Regions from separate parts of the Homo sapiens genome. Here region 1 is linked to region 2. The links come from fine-mapping of genetic effects on gene expression. Tissue or cell type: spinal cord. Region 2 holds a variant in brackets; the other region holds the start of a gene. All regions are shown on one strand. Distances are between the middles of the regions. Region 1 holds the start of ARHGEF28 (Rho guanine nucleotide exchange factor 28). Region 2 overlaps ARHGEF28 (Rho guanine nucleotide exchange factor 28).

Evidence for each region. PIP is the estimated chance that this variant, and not a neighbour inherited with it, causes the effect.
Region 1: it holds the start of ARHGEF28, and the variant in region 2 is fine-mapped to the expression of ARHGEF28 in spinal cord (GTEx, PIP above 0.99).

The regions. Positions count from the first base shown.
Region 1 is chr5:73,620,421-73,632,558 of GRCh38, forward strand. ARHGEF28 (Rho guanine nucleotide exchange factor 28) reads left to right here and starts at 5,776. Exons shown (of 36, transcript NM_001177693.2): 1 at 5,776-5,902. RefSeq lists a silencer at 5,485-5,574.
Region 2 is chr5:73,649,258-73,661,395 of GRCh38, forward strand. The region is part of intron 1 of ARHGEF28 (Rho guanine nucleotide exchange factor 28); the gene reads left to right. Among named protein-coding and RNA genes, the nearest start is that of ARHGEF28, 29 kb to the left of the region's middle. The variant A/G (reference allele first, on the strand shown) is at 5,815.

The sequences.
Region 1 (12,138 bases), 29 kb before region 2:
AATCCTAGATTTTGAGTTGTTCTGCACACCTGAGCACTCTGGTGGTGCGCCTGGAAACAAAACTGCTGACTAATGGAAGATTTATAGACAAACCATGCATTTGGAACATTATCCAGCTGGCCTGCCTTGTACAGTTATGTCCTGGAGATCAAAAAGGGGCCTTTGAGTTGTTTTAAAATTTAAGAAGTTGGCTACAACTTGAGGATACCTGGAGCCATTTTGGCAAGAAAAAGCAGTGATCTAAATATTCACTTTCTGAGATGAAGATTGTTCTAGATCCTAAGAAAAACCTCTGCAGTTACTAGCCCTTCACAAGTCAAAAAGGTCTGGCTCTCTGAAAGGCCAGGAGATATAGCCAAAAGGTGATTTCCTAGAAATTTTGGTTTGGAAGGTTTAGAAAGGAGCAGAGTAACTGATTGTCTATGTAGCTGTGGATCGGTTGACAGGTGGAAAGAAAAAAATGTGTCTGGGCTAGAGTCTAAATACTTCCCAAACTACCCTTGTGTTTCAGGATGTTCAGGAAGGGTGGTTCCCTCTCTACCCAAAGCCCTTTGAAACAGGACTGTGCAACAGAACTTTCTCTGATGATGGAAATATTCTTGATCTGTGCTGTCCAATGGGAACATGTGGCTATTGAGCACTCAGTATGTGGCTACTGCAATGAGGAAATGAATTTTTCATTTTACTTAATTTTAATAAATTTAAATGCCACATGAGGCTAATAGTTACCATAGTGGATAGTGAAAGAGTCAGTAATTTTTGTTGGGGTTACTGCATTGAACAGTGACAATGGTGATGTCCTTTAGCTACAAATGGCCACATCTCAGTATTTAGGAACTGAATAGAATTGGTGTTTCCTATAAAATGGAATCTCTTTATTATATTTTCCTCTTTTCAGAGTGAATCCCCTGAGAAGTTCTTGAGGTATGGTCCTGGCTCTAGCGGGTAAAAAATTGCACCTAAAAGAAGGTCAGGCCTGGCGCAGTGCTCACACCTGTAATCCCAGCACTTTGGGAGTTGGAGGCAGAAGCGGGAGGACTGAGGATTGCTGGACGCCAGGAGTTTGAGACCAACCTGGGCAATATAGGGAGACCCCGTCTCAACAAAAATAAATAAATAGCCAGGTATGTGGCACATGCCTGTGGTCCCAGCTACTTGGGAGGCTGAGGTGGGAGGATTATTTGGGCCTGGGAATTGAGGCTGCAGTGAGGTGCAGCTGCACCACTTTATTCCAGCCTGAGTGACAGAGTGAGACCCTGTCTCAAAAAAAAAAAAAAAAGGTCAATATGCAAAGGAAGGGTCTCAATAATGTGAATCTCTAGAGACTGGCTCTGGAGGTGGAGTAAATCTCTAGTGATAGAATTTTAGACCCTAAGGAATCAGCTGAAAAGAAACAATGTTTTGTCAATGGAGCATCCCCAGTGTTTCCAAATTGCACACGTGGAAAGTGTTGAACTCTTCATAATTATTGGGCTGGCTCCACTCAAAAGGCGTATTTATAATTTCCCCAATATCTTCCTTTTGCTCATGTAAATACCAACATGAAAATATCAGCCACAATGAGTTCCATGTGCTTTCCTAAAAATACCTGAGACTAATATGGACTTCAAGAACATAGCTGCATTATGACTTTTGTAGGATCTGGGCACTTTTGCCTTCATACGCACCTTCCTCCAGAAAAATAAAAATGTAGATAAAAAGAAAAATTATATTTCACTATTGCATTGTTATAGATACAAATATATTAATATTATATGCTAAAACATTTTCTTTGACCTAAAAGTTCATTTTTCTCTTCTGATTTTAAAAGAAATTAAAATATTTTTTGGCCCCTATAAGTATTATAGACCCTAGGCACTGAGCTTGCTATACCTGACAGGTAAGTTGCCCCTTTAGGGAAGACCTCATACTGAAAACTGGCTAAAAACAACCTATTATTTTCTTCAAAGATTGCAAAATATTAATTTTTTGCATAGTTGGTGCTCAATAAATATCAGTTGATTAAAAATATTCAGAGATGTTAAGACTTCTCCTGTAACAAATCTGAATATTTCTCTCTAAATCTATTATTTCGCTCCTCAGAGTATGGTCCACAGACCAGTAGCCTCAGCCCCAACTCAAACTTATCAGAAATGAAGAATATCAGACTCCATCTGCTACTAAGTCAGAATTTGCATTTTAACAAGATCCCCAAGTGACTCATATGCAGATTACACGGAAGCCCTGCTCACCTGCAATTTAAACCTGATGGTTTAACATTGGAAATGGAAGAGCTGATTCCCCTTAACCACATATAATTGAGTGCGATCCTCACCCTCCTCCAGTGTCAATACATTCAGTTCCTTTAGTCCAGTGGTTCCCAACTTTGGTTGAACATTGGAATCACCTGGAGAGCTTTCAAAAAACGACCAATAACATGGGCCCAATTTTCTGGAGATTCCGAATGATTGATCAGGTGGGCGTTCTGGGAATCAAGATTGTTTTAAAGCTTCCCAGGTGATGCTAATGTGTAGCCAGAATGAGAACTACTGTGTGGATTTCCCCATGAGATCTGTCCCCTGGTTTTAATAATGTTGGCCTCTTTTCTCTGTGTTCTCCGACCTTCCTAGGCTGGACAACCAAGTTTATAATCCAGAAATAGTTTCTTGTCTTGGGGTCTGCCATGCCCTATTAATTATCTCAAAGCTCTGAAGTGTTCTCCTAATACAACCATACACTAAAAGATTAACTGCCACTATTTTCCACATCCTTATTATGTGTCCTGTAATCACTTTCAGTCACGTAATCCTCACAATGATAGTATATGCTGTTCTTATGCCCATTATACAGATGAGGAAATGGAGGCTTAGAAAGGTTGTATCTTCCCAAGATCATCCTATTTGTATTCCAGAGTTTGTTCACCTCCTATTAAATCTACCATTTTCTAGTATCTTGCTTTCACTTAAGAAACACTAGTAATTCCCTAACTCACGTGGCTAAACATCAGATTTACAATTATCCAATTTTTGAGAATTATTGACAAAGGAAATATAATGAAGGCCAGGAAATAATTAAATAGATAATATAATTAGCAGTGGTTATAATTCATTAAAGTTTGAAAATGGTGACATTTTTCTTCTTGCATAATGGATGTGATAGTTCAATTAAAAAACAAATACTAAATACTCCAGAAATGCCCTGTGTTGGGACTGTGAAGATTACAGGGGTAAGGAACAGGTTTTGTCCTTGAATTTCAAGTTGAAGGGAGGATAAGAGCCTACAGTTGTCCAACATGTGACAGTTAATATAATCAGGTGCTACACTGTGTAGTAAGGCCATTATGCTTTGCCAAAATTCAGAGGGTAGCAGAAACCAGGACAATGTAAGGATTTATGGAGGAGGTCTATCTGGAGTGAAGTATGTAAGGATGAATGGGGATTGAATCTCTAGAAAAGACAGAGCTGAGCTAGGACATTGGCATAATACTCACTAGGCAGTTAGAATTTCCCTAACTGAATGGCCAGCCTGGTTTCTTGCTGGCTGAATGTCCCTTGTCTGTAGAGAATATATAGTCTTTGAATTCAAAACAAATGCTGTCCCAGCCAAGCTTAGTGCCAGCAATGTCCTGAGTGACCTATATCTGGAGCAGTGAAATCAATCAGGTGCAAAGGGTTATTTACACAACTGATAGCTTCCTGCCTCAGATAGTCACGGCTTCTTTTAAGGTTGCTGAAGCAAACACTTTGCTTAATATTTGAACCTAGAGAAGTTGAAAGCCAAGTACGTATTTAAATATTGATCAAGCTCAGGGCTTGAGAGCAGGCAAGAAAACTGCAGCTAGCATTGTATGTCCTTGGGTGGTGAGAGTTTCACAATTACTAGTTTTGCTGGTTTCTTTTTAGTGGGGAAGGGGCTTGGGGGTAACTTCTTATAATATTTGTTCCTCTTTCCACATTTTTTTGTTTTTTAAAAAAAGATACATACCTGCCAGAATTAAAAAAAAAAAAAAAAGAAAAAGAGGGCTTCAGTACTAGTGATATGAAAAAGGACAATAACAACAAAGGCTTCTAACACATCACCATGTTTATTCACCAGAGTTTGGAAACCATTTTTGTCTGGCATGTTGATTCAGTTAATCTTCAGTTCAAGTGATTCTCCTGCCTCAGCCTCTCGAGTAGCTGGGATTACAGGCACGCACCAACACACCCAGCTAAATTGTGTGTTTTTGTGGAGACGGGGTTTCACCATGTTGTCCAGGCTGGTCTCGAGCTCCTGACCTCAGGTGATCCACCCGCCTCAGCCTCCCAAAGTGCTGGGATTACAGGTGTGAGCCACCACGCCCTGCTCAAAATTTTTTCTATTTTTGAAAAGAATATTATTGCTTTTATTTTTATCTTGTGTACCTTGACACTGGGCAGGATATATATATATATTTTTTTTTTCTTTTTTTTTTTTTGTGGCAGCGCCTGAGGCCAGGCCTTGAGTTCACAGCTCTGTGGGGCTGAGGGTGGAATCAGCTGGGATGACAGCCCAGGTCAGGAGTGCAATGCCAGTGTTGGGGTCCCTTTCCCAAGGCGGAATTGCAGCCTTTGCCTTGGAACAGGGCTAAGGCATTCAGACACACGATGGTCTTTCTCTTGCTAATCTCAGCCTTTCTCAGCATTCGTATCAGCAAGGTGGGCTGGGGAAGGTGGCGGCTGGAAGGGAGACAGAAAAGGCCCAGGCCCAGGAGAAGTGGTGGTGGCAGCCTGGGAGCTGGGCTCCATTCTGGCTTGGGATCTTGGTGGCCAGCTTCCTCGGGCCACACCTTTGTTATGGTTCTGTGCGTAGCCAGTCTTCAAAGGAAAAACAAAGCAGAGACTCAAGGTGATTTTATAAATTTTATTAGAAACTTTATATTTCAATACTAATTTCCTTACAAATAGTCTTAACTATAACACTTACTGCCACAGCAGTCTCAGATGGGCAATTTTACCTTTAAAGCTGCAATAATGGTCTTAAGTCTGTATATGAGAGCCTGGCTGATGAAGAGGCTTGGCTTCTGCTCTTGGGGCTGTCATCACATCTAAGAGGAAAACTGCTTTGGAGGATAAGGAAGTCCCTTCACATTGCTGTTCATTGTAAAAGTGGTTATGGTTTTCATACGTTTTTGAATTAAGACTTGCAGCCACTTGCGTGCATAAACGTGAAGGGAATCGCAGCTTGCAAAGCTCTCGGCCAGGGAACATGAGCTTCAAATAAGAGGGCAAATGCTGTTTTTAAAAATAATATTTCCTATTGTAATAGACCCGGGCCGTATTATGTCACGGGTGTGGTGGCTTTTGGCTGGGAACAGCCTGAGCCTCCCTCGGGCCTGGCACAACTCCTTTCGCGAGCGGGCAGCCCAGCGCCTCCCTCGGGAGGCGCCAAGGCGTGGGGGCGCCCGGGGCGCAACTGGCACTCCTGTGGCCCGCCAGGTCCGCGCCAGCCTCCGCGCCTCCGATCTCCGGAGGCCAACGGCCGCAGCCCCGCAGCGGGAGGGGGCTGGCGGAGACAGCGCGGTAGGGGCAGCTTCAGGTTTCCTCCTGGAGCCGGTGTCGGGCGCGGCCGGCGGGCGGGCCTCGCCATGTGATGCGGCCGCCGCGAGCCGGGCCGGGAGGTGGGCAGGCGGGGATCCAGTGGCAGCGGGGAGGCGCGGGGGGAGCGGGGGGAGCGGGGGCGGCACCCGCTGCTGGCGCAGCCAGCCGGGCCCGGGCGCGCGGCCGCGGCTCCACCCCCTAAACCTTGGCTTCAGCCCGGCCGCCGCCAGGCGTTGGCATCGCCGGGGAGAGCCTTCCGGACTCCGGGCGGCGGCTGGCTGGGGGCGCGTTCCGAGGCGCCCTCAGGCAGGGCGCGGGGGCAGAGCCTCGCCTGGGTTCTGGAGGCTGCGGGGCCATCGCTCCAGGTAAATGCTCTTTGGGACTCCATCGTCTGCGTTTCCCTGCAGCTCTGGGCGGAAAAGTTTGTCCACCTGAGTTCGCATCCGCAGGGCCACTTTCTCCAGGGTCCCCAGGGATGCGAGGGTCAGCAGAGGTGACCGGGGAACCGCTGCAGGCGCTGCGGCGCGAGGGCTGGGCGCCGCCTCCCGCTCCCTCGGGAGCGGCAACAAGTGGAGAGGGCGGCGCAGCCTCGTGCGGCGGCGGCAGCTGCGGAGCGCGGGGTCGCTCGGGCGCACTGAGAGCCGGGGGCTGGGCGGGTGAAAGCCCCGCCAGTGTCCTTCGGGAGACAGGGAAATAAACAGCACTCCTGCGGTGGAGAAGGGAGAACGTCGAGAGTTGGTGTCCGCCCTTCCCATCCATGCTTCAGCTCCGGGACTGAGGGTGCTTGGCAGGGCCAGGACCGCAGAATGCAGACGGAACGCAAGCTCAGGACACACGCACTACCACTTACTCGTGTGGAAGCATCTGCTGTGTTTCAAAAGGCATTTATGGTTACCTTGGTTGGGAAAGGTGGTCAGAATTATGTGGGACTCCTTACGCTTATTTTATGGATTTGTTTCCCCTTAAATACCCGGGGTGTATGTGGTGGTGCCCCAGCCTTCCCGTGCTTAGGTTTTCCGAATGACAGGCCGGTGTTTGGCCAAGAAAGCACCATTTGGGTCGAGGGCTGTATGGAAACTGGGTGCTCAGGCGGCCCTGGATACCCAGCTTTGGTTTCCCAGAGACCAGTTAGATTTCTAAGAAAGAATCCATCTCTATAGGCCCACAGCGTCCCCGCATTGGTTGGCTGGGTGGGCCGAGGAACAGTGGCAACATCTGTGTTTGTGCGGCTTCTCCCGCCTTGACCCCTGCCTGGGTATCCACACATCTCCTCACACCAGGAGTTATAGAGGTTCACCACGGACCACACCAATTGGGCAAAATCCAAAGAAAGTAAGATCTTTAATTTTCGTTTATAAAGAACTGATCATTTGGGGTTCCATGGGGCCCCTGGCTTTCTGAAGCGTTGTTATCTTGTGTTCCTAGGCCCTGAAGCTGTCAGGTGTAAGTGAAATCCTGTTTTCACTGCAAAAACAAATCAAGGACCTACCCTTGTTAGGTTCTGTGGCATCTACTTTGTACATGACAATCCAAGCGTAGTGATGACTTCTGGGAAACCTGGGAAGGTTTCTCTAGATCTGTCCTGGGTTTTTAGTTACACATTCCTAAAGCACATGGGTATTTGCCTAATCTTGATTAATAGCCAAAGTAACCCCTTTGGAGTATTTGCAGAAAAGAGATGAATATGGCAAAACCCTTTGGAATTTTTAATACAACATAGTATTTCAATGTAATGTTCTGATGTGGACTCTATATGTGATTATTGGGCTGATTAACTTTGATCAAATAGGAATTTGGCTAGCATCAGATCTTATAGCTAATGGTTAGGGAAACTGAGGCTCAGAGCTAGCTATAGAGTGTGTGACTCAGATGAATGTCTTGGGTAATGGGAGAATGGAGAACAGAGAATCAGTGTTTGTCCTGCTTTTGACTTTTTTTTTTTCCTTATCAAAACCACACAATCTGGCCAACTAAGAACAGGTTGTATAGCAGGCGTGTCATTAGACTTTCCTCTGAAGTACCCAACTGTCCTTTAAGCAGTTTATAAACACTTAAAGGTAAAGAAGAAAAATAGTAGTTAATAACTAAGTTTCTATGAAATGTCTCAGAAGCCTCACTTGGGTGGGTTTCATACTTTTTTTTTTTAATTATGTGAGTACTGCAGAAGAGTTTGGAATGTTTTCTTATTGTGTTCTTATAAGAAACTACACTTGTGGCTAAGACTTAAATTGGGCAGGAATTTCAGGTGAGCTCTGATACATGACCTCCTTTAGTATGCCCCGTGAGAAAAGACTATGTGTTCTAAGTAGGTATTAAAACAAATTGCAGCATATACTATTACTTCTATATTAAACATTCTGTACACCACTATATTGGTACCCAAGCTCCAACAAGTCCTGCCAGTTTATGACCAAGGACTGAATTCCAAGAAAAAAAGATTCATGATATAAATGTTGGAAAAGCCTCACCACTTGGGCATGGCTAGGATGGTACTGAACAGAGCCTAAATTACCTAGGCTGACTATAATTTTATTATGCTTTTATTTACTAATCAGATATGACAGATCTGGTTTGTGTAGGTTTTGTGTAATTGCATTTGTATTTATGTTGCTTTTAGTGAAGCAGAGTAGCTCTGGGATCCCCCCACCGGCCCCCGCCCATAACCTTAAATAAGATTTGTTATGAAGAGGTGGGTCAACCTGGGCAACTCCTACTGAGGATGTAAAAACAGTGTTACATTTGAAGTGCACCAAATTCAGGGAATTCTGCCATGCTAAAGTTGTGCTGTAAATATGCCACCCTGTCAGACTTGAGTCCACATCTCTACTTAGGCAAAGCTGGGCTTTGAGATATTTTTCTTGCTTAAGAAGTGTAGGTCAGGTCCTGTATCACAGAGCATTTTGCTCCATTTGTATGATACTCTGCCATTTTGTCCAGTCTCTGTGACCCTTAGTTCTTTTGTTATTATCATGGTATTGGAAGTTCTCGGAAGCCCAAGGCAGTGTCACTCTACTATTTTGCCATTTTGACAATCTCTATTATGGGGCTCTCTTTCTATGAACATGTTCTTCATTTACATTCATTCAACTAATATTTGTTGAAGTCTTACTATGTGCCCAGCACTGCTCTTTGCTTTGATTCTCTGATCTTTGGATTCCGTGTTGAAGGTGACACTTTTCTGGCTTTAGAGTTTTTAGGGTCTGTTGCATTTTCGGAGTAGACTTTTGCACACTCCACATTAAGACATTTGGCTGGCCAGGGTGGGGGTGGTGGCTCATGCACATAACCCCAACACTTTGAGAGGCTGAAGTGGGAGGATTGCTTGAGCCCAGGAGTTCAAGACCAGCCTGGGCAACATGGCAAAACCCTGTCTCTACAAAAAAAATACAAAAACTAGCCAGGCATGGTGGTGTGTGGTGTGTGCCTATAGTCCCAGCTACTTGAGAGGCAGAGTGGGGAGGATAGCTTGAGTTGGGGAAGTAGAGGCTGCAGTGAGCTGAGATGGTGCCACCACATTTCCAGTCTGGGTGACAGAAAAAGACTCTGTCTCAAAAAAAAAAAAAAATTAAAGACATTTGACTGGCAAAATAAGTCATGTAACTTATTTTTTTAATGTGATAGTGCATCTTCTTAATTGACTTCCATTTTTCCCTTGAAATTTGATCTCAGGCACAATAGTAATTTGCTTATTTGTAACATTATTGCTCCTGGACTTCTTCTCCTGGATAACCAAGATAATGAGATCTGACATCATTTTTTAATGAGAGAAAGTAAAAAAGTATATAATTGAATAGTGGGCATTTGTTCCAGTGATACTGGTTTTGAACACTTGTATAAAAATGTATTTTAATTTTCAGAGGTGTTTTCTCTTGTTTTAGTTTAATCTTTCCCTCAATTATAAATAACTCGAGGTCTGATTTCTGTAGAAAGTTAACATACAAGCGATGTTCTCTTAAGAGCAGATGAAAATGTGTCTATGAGTGAGGACCAACAGGCAGAAATCAGCAGTGGTGGCTTTGCTCTCCATAGTAGCCTGTTCAGAAGAGACCTTTCCAAAGCCAGCAGGCAAATAGCATTCTGCCTATTTCTAGTGGCAAGCTTTGTGTGACTGCTGTGCACATGATCATTGTGCCTTTAAAAAATATACACTTGAAATGTTAATATGCTTCAAATATATATAATAGACATTCCCTTAATAAATAGATGAAGCGTATATTGTATATATTAATGACATTTATGGTTTAGCTTTTCAATTCATTATCAAACACTAGTGACCATGCCCTTTCTGTTTAAGACTTACTCCTTTTCTTCCATCATTTTATAATTCAAGAAATTATATTTCATAAACTCTCATGAAGGGGGTTAGAATGTGGACTTTGGAGCCAGACTGTCTGGGTTAAATAGCCCCAACTTTGCCCTGGCTATGTGACCTCTCTCTACCTCAGGTTTTTCCATTTGTAAAATGCGGATAATAATAGTAACCTGCTTCAACTGTTGTGAGGACTCCGTGATTTAATTTACAGAGAACCCTCCTGGTAGTGCCTGACAGAGAGTAAGTTGTAGTTATAGCAAATGGAAAATAACCATTTAAAAAGGATAAAAGGGTAGCAGGTTTTTCAGCTTTCAGAAGGTAGTGAGATGTCAGTGTGACCCCAGGAGAAATTGCCCTAGGCTGGGAGTTGGAGGAAGGGATGGAGTCCTCTGGCTTTCCAGTTTTGTGACCTTGGGTGAATATTCCTACTGGAACCCTATCTGGTCCCAGTTTCCTCATCCAGTAAAATGGAAAGGATTAGACTGGATGACCTCTAAGAGCAACCCATTTTTTAACATTCTACTCAGTCTTGATGAATTGAATGTGAATGTGATGTATTTGTCAATTTGCTTTACTTGTCTTGGTCAACACTACTGGAAAGGTACTGTCTAAAAGGTTAGCATTGTGCCTGCAATAGGCATTTGAATAGATGATGAGCTGTCACTCTTATTCCTTATCTCTCCTTGACTACCAGACAGTCATCAGGTTTAAATGACTTGGAGTTATCTTCCTGGACTTAGTCCAAAGAGATTTCAGACATGCAAGTCCAGATTCCTTGTGTGGGCCATATGGCTGCCCTAGTCCTCTTCTTCTGAAGAACCCCTCATGTAGAAGAGGGGTGGTATAGCTCTGGAAAGAGGAAAGACAAGTGGGCTGACTGTTTAATTTTATGATAAAAATAATTTCTATCAGGCAAAGAAGTCTCATGAAGGACTTTTAAGTATGGTGAAAAGCAAGAGGTTTCATTGGGCTGGATGGTTCAGACAAAGTCCCTCGGGGGCTTATATTTTTGTCTTTTCCCACTAAGACCCTGATTTACTGTCTGTACATTGTCACTGGTTCTTTTTCAACAGTGCTTCTCCTTTTCTTGCTTCACCAGCCTCCTGGTTTGCTGTATGATCAGGTGTTAGAGTTCTGAAAGGTAGAGGATATTCAGTGATTAATGAGACTACTGACTATGGGTTCTTTACTTTGAGCCTCTAACCCAGGATTTCAAGCCCTGTTGTTCACTGGAACCACCTGGGTTCAGAATCTCTCAAGTGGACCTGGCATCATTTTCTAAAGAGGTGATTCTAATGTACAGCTGGGTTTGATAGCTACTTTCCTAATCTTTAGGTGTTTCTGGCTTCCTACATTGCACAGTGCCTAGGGAAAGGGTAACACCTGCTATTTCTCATGGTGTTACTGTTATGCTGTTGGTGTGTCAACTGCCTCCTGCTGTTTCTCCCTTGTGAACTCTCCAGTTCTGTTAGCCAGGACTAGTACTGCCTATGGAACATGTTGTGTGTTTCTGACTTCTTTGACTTTTTCCTAGTGGGCCCCTTTTCCTCCCTTGCCAACAAGTATTGCAGTCCTCAAAGCCCAGCTTAAACCACTTTCTGCCTGTAACCTTCAACTAACTTAGTAGCAACTGTGCTGCTTTCCCTTTTGAACTCCTACCACCCTCTCATTTTTTACTTACCACCTGTCCCTGGGTTCATTTTGTGTTCCTGTATATAAGTCTCAACTTTACATCGTGACTGTAGCCCATTAATGACAGGGACCCTGATTTAGGCTACTTTGTAGGGTGCTCAAAGTAGAATATACACGTGTTGGTCAGTTATTTAGTTATTTTGCTAACTGTCGTCTCAAGTCCTTCTTGTTTGCAGCACCACTGCAAGTACTAGTGGTGGTGTTTTCCTGGGTATCCGATGTGGATTGCGTTGGAAAACACTGGGGTACAGGGGGAGGAGGGCAAAGTTTGCTCAGGAATTAGACAGTTAGTCCTTCCCAGATGTAAATGGGAGACCTCATGGACCTCTCTGAGGAAACTGTATCAACCTGCATGGGGAAATGAATGAAATTCTTGATTAAAATCTGAGTCTTTGGATTGAAAGAAACCTAAAAGTTTTTCTCTAGTCTCCAGAAGGTGCACAATTCCCCTGCATGGCCTATCTCCAAATGGTTGACCAGTCTGTCCTTGAATACCTTCAGTGATGAGGACCTCATGACCATAAAGATAATCCATCTATTTGGAAAGCTTAGACTTTTAAAAACAATTCTCCCTTATCCTAAGTTTGTCACAGTTCT
Region 2 (12,138 bases):
TTATTTGTGGTGGAGGGTGAGTAGGAAAGAGGTGGGGAGTGGAAGGGGGACAGGAGCCCTGGAAGGAGCACCTGATCCAGAATTGAAAGAGTCTAGGAGGGTTTGGATGAGGCTTTTTGGGAAAAAGCATGCCTTGTTGGTAGAGCAAGGAGGAGCCAGAAATATCAGACTCATTTGTATTCTGAGTATTGGAAAAACTTTCATTGTGGCCCTTTTTAAGATGAAGAAGCTGTAGCCATAAGGTGGTTTGACTGTCTTGTTCTATCAATCACGAAATTGGAGCTCAGAGACATGAGATTACTTGCCCAGGGGCATGCTCCTAGTGAGTAAAGTGAGTTCTGTGTACTTGAACCTACTCTTTGGTTCCATATTAATTTTATTTAGTTATACTGTTTTACCCTTATTTGTTATTTCTGTTGTATGTTGCCACTTGTTACCAGTGGGAAAAGAGTCTAAAAAATATCAGAAGGGAGTGTGTGCTTGCTTCAGGAGGAATAGCAGGGTAATGGAGAAACTGGGACAGAAATCTGTTCCTCCATTGCCCAAGTAGCCAGAGAAAAGACGGGCTGGCACAGTGAGTGGTGGCAAAGAAAGGAGGCTGGTGGGCGAGCCCTTCGTCCCTCTGCAATAAAGTGGGGACAGACCATTAAGGGGAGACCCTCAGAGTCCCTCTTCCCACACTGTGGCAACCTGTGCCCAAGTCCTTTTTCTCACCTGATTGGGTGTCCTGGTTTCCATAGCTCTGTGTATGTGGGGAGAGGGAGAAGTGTAATCCCACTGCCAGGGTTGTGTCAGGAGAAAGTATGTTCTTGGAATTCTTAAACAGGAACCCTGATTCTCCTGGGAAACACGGCTAAACATGCTGCTTAGGACAGTACTCATGGGACAGGATATGAGTTAAAGTGGCTCATGTAAGCTGGTCTACTGTAGTGTGTATGCTTGTTTTAGAGCTGCAAGTAATCCACTTATAGGCATTGGAATCTGGCCCGTTCATCACCTGAGAGATGTTTTCTTTCTTTCTTTTTTTTTTTTTTTTTTTTTTTTTTAGACGGAGTCTCATTCTGTCACCCAGGCTGGAGTGCAATGGCATGGTCTCAGCTCACTGCAACTTCCGCCTCTTGGGTTCAAGTGATTCTCCCTCTTCAGCCTCCTGAGTAGCTGGGACTACAGGCGCATGCCACCACACCCAGCTAATTTTTGTATTTTTAGTAAAGATGAGGTTTCACTGTGTTGGCCAGGCTGGTCTTGAACACCTGATCTCGTGATCTGCCAGCCTCGGCCTCACAAAGTGCTGGGATTACAGGTGTGAGCCACCGCGCCCAGCTGAGAGATGTTTTCTAATGATGGAAATTACCTGTATACATAGGCTTCTTCTTCCTTCTTCTTAATTTTTTTTTTTGACAATGTCTCACCCTATCACCCAGGCTGTTGCCCAGGCTGGAGTACAGTGGTGCAATCTCGGCTCACTGCAACCTTTGCCTCCCGGGTTCAAGCGATCCTCCCACCTCAGCCTCCTAAGTAGCTGGGACCACAGGCATGTGCCACCATGCCCAGCTCGTTTTTTGTATTTTTGGTAGAGACAGGGTTTTGTCATGTTGTCAGGCTGGTCTTGAACTCCTGGCCTCAAGTGATCCACCCACCTCAGCCTCCCAAAGTTATAAATACCTTCTGATGTATCCAAAGAAAAAGCTTTTGTAAACGTGTCCCAACAACTAGTGCTTGGAGGAATTAATAGTAGAAACTCTGAGAGACCAAAGTACTTTCAAAAGACAAATGCTACAATTAGTTCTTAGACATTTAGGAAAATTAGAATGGGGGCTTGAACTGGGTAAGATTTCGTGAGAACTCAGCTCTGACCTGTTTACATATGTGGGGTTTTAACAGTCACTGGGTTTGGTTGAGCCTAAGAAGAAGGGAATGGAAAATGCTCTTGGAGGTGTGGTCCAGGTCATGAGCTCTGGAGTGAGATAGACTTGGGCTTACTTACCAGCTCGACTGTGTTTTAGCTGGTGACATTGGACCCCAGTCTGTTTTCTCATTCATAAAGTGGGAATAGTAACATTATTTATGGATTGTTGTGCAGAATACTTACACTATGTTGAAGCAACTCCAGATTTTCCAGATAGCAATAATGGAGGGAAAATCATTGCATTAGAAGATCTTGTTTTGAAACCAAACATGTTGTTTTACTTAGATTGATTATTTAGGGAAAGCTGGTAGAGATTGTGGGGAATGTTAATATGTCTCCCAAGCTATTCTTGTTGCTTTTACTTTGTGAAGTGCTAACATATAGGGCCTGGTGTGTAGAAAACCTGCAGTCAATGACAGCTTGTTGTTATTTCTTGTGAACACAATTGAGATCATCTAGTGTATACACTGAAAATCTTTTATTTTTCACTTTTTACATTACTAATTTTTTTATGTTATTAAATGCCCTTTAAAAATGATCATATTCAGTGACTATATATACAATTATCTGTTTCTGTATTATTCTCATTGTGGGACTTTTAGGCTATTTCCAACATTTTTCTTATAACTCGTGAAGTATATCTTTGTCTGAACTTATGGCTCAATTCTTGCAAGGGGAGAGGCAATTCTGTTTTAACTATGGTTGTCAATGGCAAGTCTGAGTCAGAATCTGATGCCACAACCATCCTAGGCCCAGCTACCATGCTCTGTTGTTTGTCATTGACCTGTTTGTTTCTCAGGCTTCGGAGACCTGTGAAGTTACCTCATTTTGGTTCCGTTGGGCCTCAAGTGCAGAGTAAGTGCTTGTTAAAGGTTTGTGGAGATAAATTGAGGATAAAAGTTTTGGGGTTGCAAAGAGGTTTGAGAACTGCCAGTCCATGTTCTCCTTCTCTATGTTGTAACTATTTTTAAGTGCTAGGGAATGGGGTATATAAAAGACAATATGATCTCTTCCCTCACGAAGCTTATTATCTAGTTGAGAAGGTCACACTAGTGGAAAGTAAATAATTAGAGAAGTTAGTCAAGTCATATAATGGCAACTAAAAGTCTGATGAGGAGTTTAGAACTAGCAGAAAATTCTTACTGCTATAGACTCATCAGAGAGGGCTTCATGGAGGAAGTGAAGTGAGGCAGGTTTTAGGATTTAGCTATTCATAGAGAGAGAGGGTCTGTGGGATTTTGGGCAGGAGCACCAGCATGAGCAAAGGAGCAGGAGTGGGAATGAGTGTGGGACATGAGAGGGCACGGTATGCACATTTGGGGGAGCAGAAGGAAATAGCATTAGGGGCTAGGCAGGGTGGGGCCACATTCAGGAGGGCTGGAAGCCAAACAGTTGAGAAGCATAATAAGAAATAAAGAGTCTTTGTAGGTTTATGAGTGACATGAGGAAAGTGGTTGAACTGGAAATTCAAAGGTGGTGTCAGAAATATTGCTCCGAAAAGGTCATTTATAAGTACACAGATATTTGGCAGTAATAATATGTTATACATCTGGAATCCTTTAAAGCTTCCACAGATCTCACTTAATCCTTGTATGTCCAGGAGTGGCCAATGATTATTATCCCCAATTTACAGATGGGGAAACTGAGCTTTCAAGTGGTTGAGTGACCTCTCAGTATCACACAGTTAGAAAACGGGCAGATGGAGGAACCCAAATCTCCTCATTCCTGGACCATTGGTTTTTCAGTGATGCCTCAGGGTGCAAGGGACACATCTTCCATTGTTAAGGGAACTACTTCTTGGAAAGAAAGATGCCGTCAGTGTGTAGTTAATGTGTATCAGGTACTTTACATACATTTGGCATCATCAGCCTAATGGTCTTGTAGCTGTTGGTCAATAGCTCTATTTTACAGATAAGGAAACTGAGGCTTAAGGAGGTTAAACAACTTGCCCAGCGCCACACATCCAGTTAGAGGCAGAGTGAGGGGCCCTGCTCCAAGTGTGCATGACTGTTTCTTGCCTTGGTTCTTCCCACACCTGACACTTGGGCACACTGCAGCTACTTCTACTTCTTGCTTTGCTCAGCGATGTGAGGGGTTGATTTTCAGGTTACATATACAAAATTAAATTATTTTGGAATGAGTTCAAAGCAAGTGTCTTGGCTGAATATTACACCGTATTTTATGGAGGTGTCTGTATATCGAGTATATTGAGTGAATATTAGTAATTTCAAGAAACTAATTAGGAAAAGCAGAAGTTTGATCTCTGGTAGGAGTTTGAGGATATATGCTTATGCTTCTTCTAAGGCTCTCTTAACTTCGGGATGGAGATTCCTGTCCTCAGTGCAGCATGCAAGGTGCCTAGTGAGGAGACCCTTGCTTATGTCTCTCGTCTCAGCTTCTGCCTCCTTGTGTCTTGCACATAGCTACATGGAAGGAATATCAACTCCTGCACAGAGTTTCACATGTTCTCTGTGCTCCATGCATGTGCTGGAAGGTGCTGAAATGTGCCTCCTCTCTATAGCCCCTATCTGTCCTTCCCTTTAGCCTAGCTAACTGTGTTCATCCATCAAAACTAAGCACAACATCCAGTCTCCTCTGGGCTTCCCCTACAGCTCCTTTCCAGCCCTTGGACCAGGTTTGGCATTCCTGCCCTCTGTTCCCCCCCGTCATGGCACTTCTACTCTGTGTTTTCCAGGAAGATAGCACAGAGGTGGAAGTGTATATGTGGTATGCAGGGATACTCAATCGGCCACCCTGGGTAGAATGAGTTTGCATAGAAAAGGTGTATGAAAGAAAGGGGCCTCAGTCATAGAGTGCTTCAGCCATTTTGGGTGCAAACAACATAAATAGACTTTTTGGTGTCTAAATATCACCCTAACTTCTCTCCTTAAGTTAGGGTGCTTAAGTTATTATCTGCTTAAGAGTGGACCCCTGCTTAAGCATCCTAGTCATGTACCAGCCCCTGGCTGCACTGGGGCAGGGAGAGGGACAATGAAATCCCATTGGCTTCTGTAAGGACAATGGGATCCTACTTCCTGTCAGTGCTATTCACAATGGGGGATTTCCCCAGAAGGGAGATCCAGGTGCTAGCAGAAAAAAGGGAAGGATGCCAGACAACCAGAACCCCATAAATGTCTGCTCTGGAGAAACCAGGAAGGAAGCATGGCCTGAGGCACTCGAGGGGCTCTCAACACCAGCCTCAAATGGCAGGTACAGGGAGAGGCCTTTCCTCTCTAGGAGCCACTGAGAGATTGGCAGTAGGGGAGTGGGCTAGGCACCCAGAGCAGCATTTTTAGAAGCTGAATCTTTAGTCGTGGGCCTCATGGCCTGGAGAGAGCTGGGGCTGAAAGTCTGAAAGTGGGGGGACCAGTCAGGAGATTAGTGTCTGTGTGCAGTAAACACGGAACCAGAAATCTGGAATTCACCATGAGTCATTAGCAGATGGGGATTAGAACTCATTGACCTTGGGGAAGTCATCAGACTTTTCTTGCCTCAGGTGAACACAGTGGCATAATTATGCTGGCCCACCCAGTGAAATGCTGCCAGAATGAACTCAGTCATCTCTTTCATCCAGATACAGATTCATCATGGTGTCAGGTTTAGCTCATTGCTTGTTTCTACCCCTTGTGTGTCTGATCATTTTCTAGTTACCACTCCTTTTTTTTCTGAAATGAAAAGTCAAGGCATGTGAAAACCTGACGTTCACAGTAATCTAAGCACATCCTTGCTCTGTCAGGGAGAGATTCTGCCTCCAGATGGTGCATTCATCTGGTCTTTGGCATGTTCTGAGCCAGGATTTAGACAAAATGAAAGGTTGTTTGAATACTAATGTAAAATCTCATTGGGCAAGGAAAACTGTCTATTTGGATTATGAATAGAATCTGTACAGTGGCCTATTCACTTCA[A/G]TGTTAATTGTCACCATTTAGTGGAGCTGGACAGCATTTAGAAAATGAGGAATAACGCCTTCAACAAAGCTCTTTTCATGGACAGCTTTTACAATGTGCTCAATTCTATGGCTCTTGAACAAAAGTCCATATTTTCTCCTTGGGTTTGTCATGCTCTGAGCTTGCACAACAACTAGGAGTTTGGCCTAACTATGGTTCACAGGTCAACATGTTTAACCTTTATGTGGAGACTTACAAGAGTGACAGCTTCTTGGTAGTTTTTAATGATTTTTGACCTGTTTAATATTGTGTTTTATCTTGAGAAATTATTTCTACATATCCTTACATTGGAACTGTACTTCACAGAGACCTTTAACACATTATCTCCTTTTATCTGCATAGGCCCATGCAAGAGAACTCCTGGTATCTTAGTCTAATTTCCAGTGGGGTTTGTAAGAAGAGGGTTAAAATTGCTCTGTCCTTAACACTAAGAATAGAATTTCATTGTCCCTTTATTTGAGTAGCTCATAGTATTTTATACACACTAATTCATTAACCCTCAACAAAGTTCTGTGTGTAGGCAGTGGAAAATATTCTTTTCCCTGTGGCAGTATTTACACATTGAGAAACCAAGTCACGAGGCACAGCAGGGTTGGGCTGGTCCACAGGGAGCCAGGGGTAATTTGGGCCGCCCAGTTCTTAGTCTAGCCCTCTTCCTTGACCATTAGAAAACCTGAACATGTTTTTCTTTGGAAAATAATCATGATTTCCAAAGAAAATAGCCCTGAAGGCCAAATTCTACCCGGAGAACTGAACTGTAAAAGGGAAGAGTTTGGGGGCGGTTTTCTCACAAAATGGTTGATGTGGTTTCATTTTCTTATGTTGTCACTAAGTGTTTTGTCTGCTGTAGCCAGGAACCAGATGGTCAACATGGCAGTATGTTTTTGTTTCTAAGAACCAGTTTTTGAATGTCCCCATCTTGTTTTGCTGCTGATACCTTTCCAAGTGTCAGATGAGCAAGGCAGCACCTGCTGTTCCAGCTCAGGCTCTGCAATAGGTGCCGAAAAGCCTCCCTTCTTCCCTTCTCAGATTTCAACATCCTTAAGGGCGAGAATGGTCTCTAATCTTCCTCCTTTTTACCTCTTTTCTTGTTCCTACGTGTGCTTTGGCAAGAGAGTACCTCAGTAAAGGATTTGGTGGGCAGAATAAAGCCCAGATCTGTATATCTTGGTATCCAGGAGGCAGCTCGCCACATGTGGACACCTCAAACTTACTGAGTTACTGATTTCCATCCAAAACAGAATTCCTGGTTTCCTTTCCCAAATCTGTACCATCTGTGTCATTCCCTATCTCTGCTAGTGGCAATTTCATTATTTTCTCAGACGTCAAACTTGGGAGATTTTTGTCTCTCTTTCTTTCATATCCCACTGCCAAATTGTCAGGAAATCCTATTGGCTCTCCCTTCAGAATATAGCCAGTTACTTCTCACCAGCACTTTGCTACCCTCAAATCTCAGACACCATCATCTCTTCCCTAGATTATGGCAACTGCATCTAAGCACATCCTCCTGCATCTACCCTTGATCCCTCTTAGTCTGCCTGTGACTATTGTCAGAATGATCCTGTTTGTGTGTCTGTCAGATTATGTCACTCAGCTCAGAACCCTCAAATGGATCCTCTGCATACTCAGAAGAAAAGTCAACGTCCTTAGGAGGACCTACAAGGCCTTGCATAATAGATCCTTCATTTTCCTCTGTGTCTTCATCTTCTATTACTCTCCACTTCACTCTGCTGCAGACATACTGGCCTTCTTGCTGCTCCTATAAAAAGAATGTTGGAGGCTGGGCGCGGTGGCTCATGCCTGTAATCTTAGCACTTTGGGAGGCCGAGGTGGGTGGATCACGAGGTCAGGAGATGGAGACCATCCTGGCTAACATGGTGAAATCCTGTCTCTACTAAAAAATATATAAAAAATTAGCCAGGCATGGTGGCGGGCACGTGTAGTCCCAGCTACTTGGGAGTCTGAGGCAGGAGAAAGGGGAGAACCTGGGAGGCAGAGTTTGCAGTGAGCCGAGATTGCGCCACTGCTCTCTAGCCTGGGTGACAGAGCAAGACTCCGTCCCAAAAAAAAAAAAAAAAAAAAAAGAATGTTGGACTCTTCAATTGCATGTTTCATATTTCTTAGCATCTCTTTCCCATTTTTCACCTTCTCTAGCTCTGTGCTATATTCTGGGTAATTTCCAAGATTCAAATTCCAATATATTACTGACATTTTCACTTTTCTTCTTTGCTTTTTAACTTGTCCAGTGAAATTTCATACACGATACTTTTATTTTTAGGAGTTCTGTCTGGTTCTTTGTCAAGTTGGCCTGTTCCTTTCTGATGCTTTGAGTTATTTTTTAACATCTTTATTTAAACATAGTTATTTTACAAAATATTCGATCAGTCTATCATTTGAAGTTCTAAAGGGCCTGTTGTTTGTACTGTCTTTTTCATGATGGATAGTTTTGTCAAGTGTTTCATAATATTGAATGGTGAGCCTATGTCCAATGAAACTTTAACTGGGGGAGTCCTGTAATTGTGAGTTAACCCCAAATGCATTACCAGTATGGAACCATTTTATATGTTAATTTTTCAGTTAAAGGGCTCCAGGGAACCCTTCTTTCCTCACTCATCAAAGACTTAGGCTGAGACCAGAAACATTTCTTGTTTTTTCCTTTGGCTACTGGTCATATTTTTCTATTATCATTATTTGAATAAAGACATGGCCCTTTGGGGGTACTGCCTTATTTAGTTCTAACTCCTTACCACACATGGGCAAGATGTCTCCCCTTCCCTCAGTAGCCATTAAACCCAATCTTCTGGGCTGCTGAGACCATTAAAACACTTCAGGCAAAGATTCTTCGTAGGACATCACTCTGTTTTTCAATGAGTCTTTATTTTATGACTTTGGGAGTGCTCCCTTGCTTTCTTGGGAGAGCGCAACTATGCATTTAAGTAATTCTGAAACAGAGTCCATCCAATGCTTCAAGCAATAAGGTTCTCATGTTATTCAATCCATTATTTGGGTAGAAAGGAAGTCCTTTTTTTAAAAAAAAAAAAAACTCAATTAACAAATCTTTATCAAGTCCTTCTGCAAGCTCACCCTGCCCACTCCTGGCAGGATTAGTCCCTCTCCTGTCACCCCATTTCTTCTCTTTACTCTAATGTTCATTACCTGGCATTGGCTGTTTCGCCCTGTGCTTCTTCTGATAGACTAAGAATTCCTGATGGCAGAGACCTGTCTTACTCACCTTAGAATTTCCAGTGCCAAGCACAGGGTAGAAGGGGAGGGTAACACTGAAAAGGGAGGATTTGAACACACCAGAGAAGAAGGGACTATTGTAGGCACACAGTCCCTCAGCTATTAGGAATGAATGGGATTCGGCCACAAGAGGAAGGAGAAGAGATGGATGGAGGGAATAGATGCAGAGCCAGAAAGGAAGAGTTTCAAAGGCCTAACCTGTGACCAGTTGATGAAAAATGTTGATTTCAAAGTAGAGAGTGATATCTTCTGTTCAGAGTGAGGTGGGATCTTAAGGATGGAGGAAAACTGAAAGCACCACTGTGGTTCTTTTAAAAAAAATATTGCAGTTAGGTGTAACTGAATTGGCAGAACATAACCTGGTGTGAGCTCATGACAGAGAATTGTACAGTGGATTTAGTCTAGCATTGGTATTATAGACTATCTAGCAATAAATCACTGATTATAATTGAGTTTTGCTAGGCACATTCCACATCTGGGGAATTTTGCATAGTATCTGTGTTTTACTAGGTGCTCTGTACATTCTCATCTGAAATGAGTTTTTCTTCACAAATGTGTAATATAAATGTATAGACCACATACCTAGACAGGTCTGTGATGCATGCAGGTACACACACACACACACACACACACACACACACACACACACACACCACACTCACAGGCAGGGGACTGTATATTTCTTGTAACTTGGCTAATAGGCCTGCTTGCCCCAAACTCTGTATACTGACTGCCTTCTGTGTTCCCATCTTTGAGTCAGTGTTCTGAATCAAGGTATAGGCTGCTGGTAGGAAAGATCAAGATTTTAAACTCATTACTACTCACTGTCATATTAACTTGGGTTATATCACTGAGTTAATTAACTATCACGTAGTACAGAATATGAACTTAAAGCACTAGTGAACAAGATAGGTAAAAGTTTGTTATGTCACTTTGGGAGGCCGAGGCAGACAGATCACGAGGTCAGGAGATCAAGACCATCCTGGCTAACACGGTGAAACCCCGTCTCTACTAAAAATACAAAAAATTAGCTGGGCATGGTGGCGGGCACCTGTAGCCCCAGCTACTTGGGAGGCTGAGGCAGGAGAATGGTGTGAACCCAGGAGGTGGAGGTTGCAGTGAGCCGAGATCGGCCACTGCACTCCAGCCTGGGTGACAGAGCAAGACTCCGTCTCAAAAAAAAAAAAAAAGTTTGTTATGTGTTTGTGAGTGCATGTACATGTGTATGTTGGTAGTGGGGTTAAGATGAACTAAAAGTTAGTCCTATTAATGTGATGAAAAAGTACTGATTAAGTAATGACCTTATACAGGCATATCTTGAAGATATTACAATTTCAGTTCCACATCACCACAATAAAGGAAATATTGCAATAAAATGAGTCACATGAGGTTTTTGGTTTTCCAGTGCATATAAAATTTATGTTTAAATTATACTGTAGTCTATTAGGAATACAATAGCACTATGTCTAAAAAATGTAAATACCTAATTAAAAATACTTTATTGCCAAAAAATGCTAAGGATCATCTGAGCCTTTAGTAAGTCAATTTTTTTTTTTCTGGTAGAGAGTCTTGCCTTGATGTTGATGGCTGCTGACTGATCAGTTTGGTGGTTGCTGAAGGTTGGGGTGGCTCTTTAAAATAAGACAGTCATGAAGTTTGCTGCATTGATTGACTCTTCCTTTCATGAAAGATTTCTCTGTAGCATGTGATGCTGTTTGAAATAGCATTTTATTCATGGTAATACTTCTTTCAAATCTGGAGTCAATCCTCTTAACTTTGCCTATGCCTTATAAACTAAGTTTATGTAATATTCTAAATTTTTTGTTGTCTTTTCAACAACGTTCACAGCATCTTCACTAGGAGTAGTTTCCATATCAAGAAACCACTTTCTTTGCTCATCCATAATAAGCAACTCTTCATCCACTCAAGTTTGATCATGAGATTGCAGCAGTTCAGTCCCATCTTATCGCTCCACTTCCAATTCTAATTCTCTTGCTGTTTCCATCATATCAGTAGTTATTTCCTTCACTGAAGCCTTGGACCCCTCAAACCCTCATCCACGTCATCCACGAGGGTTGGAATCAACTTCTTTCAAATTCCTGTTAATGTTGCTATCTTGACCTCCCATGAATCACAAATGTCCTTAATGACATCTAGAATGGTGAATTCTTTCCAGAGGATTTTCAGTTTACTTTGCTCAGATCCATCAGATTAATCATTATTTATGGCAACTGTACTTACAAAATGCATTTCTTAAATAATAAGACTTGAAAGTCAAAATTACTCGTTGATCCTTGGGCTGCAGAATTAATATTATGTTGACAGGCATAAAAACAACATTAATCTCCTTGTACATCTCCATCAGAGCTCTTGGGTTACCAGGTACATTGTCAGTGAGCAGTAATATTTTGAAAGAAATCTGTTTTCTGAGCAGTAGGTCTCAATAATGGCCTTAAGATATTCAGTAAACCATGCTGTAGGAAGATGTACTGTCATCCAGGCTTTGTTGTTCTGTTTATAGAGCACAAGCAGAGTAGATTTAGCATACTTCCTAAGGGCCCTAGGACTTTTGGAATGGTAAATGAGCATCGGCTTCAACTTCAAGTCACCAGCTGTATTAGTTCCTAATGAGAGAGTCAGCCTGTCCTTTGAAGCTTTTAAGCTAGGCATTGACACCTCCTCCTTACCTATGAAAGTCCTAGATTACATCTTTTTCCAAAAAAAGGTTGTTTTGTCCACACTGAAAATCTGTTGTTTACTGTAGCCACCTTCATCAATGATCTTAGCCAGATTGGCTGGATAACTTGCTGCAGAGTCTACATCAGAACTTGCTTCCCTTGCACTTTGATGTTCTGGAGATGGCTTCTTAAACCTCATGAACCAACCTCTGATAGTTTCCAACTTTTCTTTTGCAGCTTCTTTACCTCTCTTAGCCTTCATACAATGGAAGAGTTAGGGCTTTGCTCTGGATTAGGCTTTAGCTTAAGGGAATGTTGTATCTAGTTTGATCTTCTATCCACACCACTCAAACTTTCTCCGTAT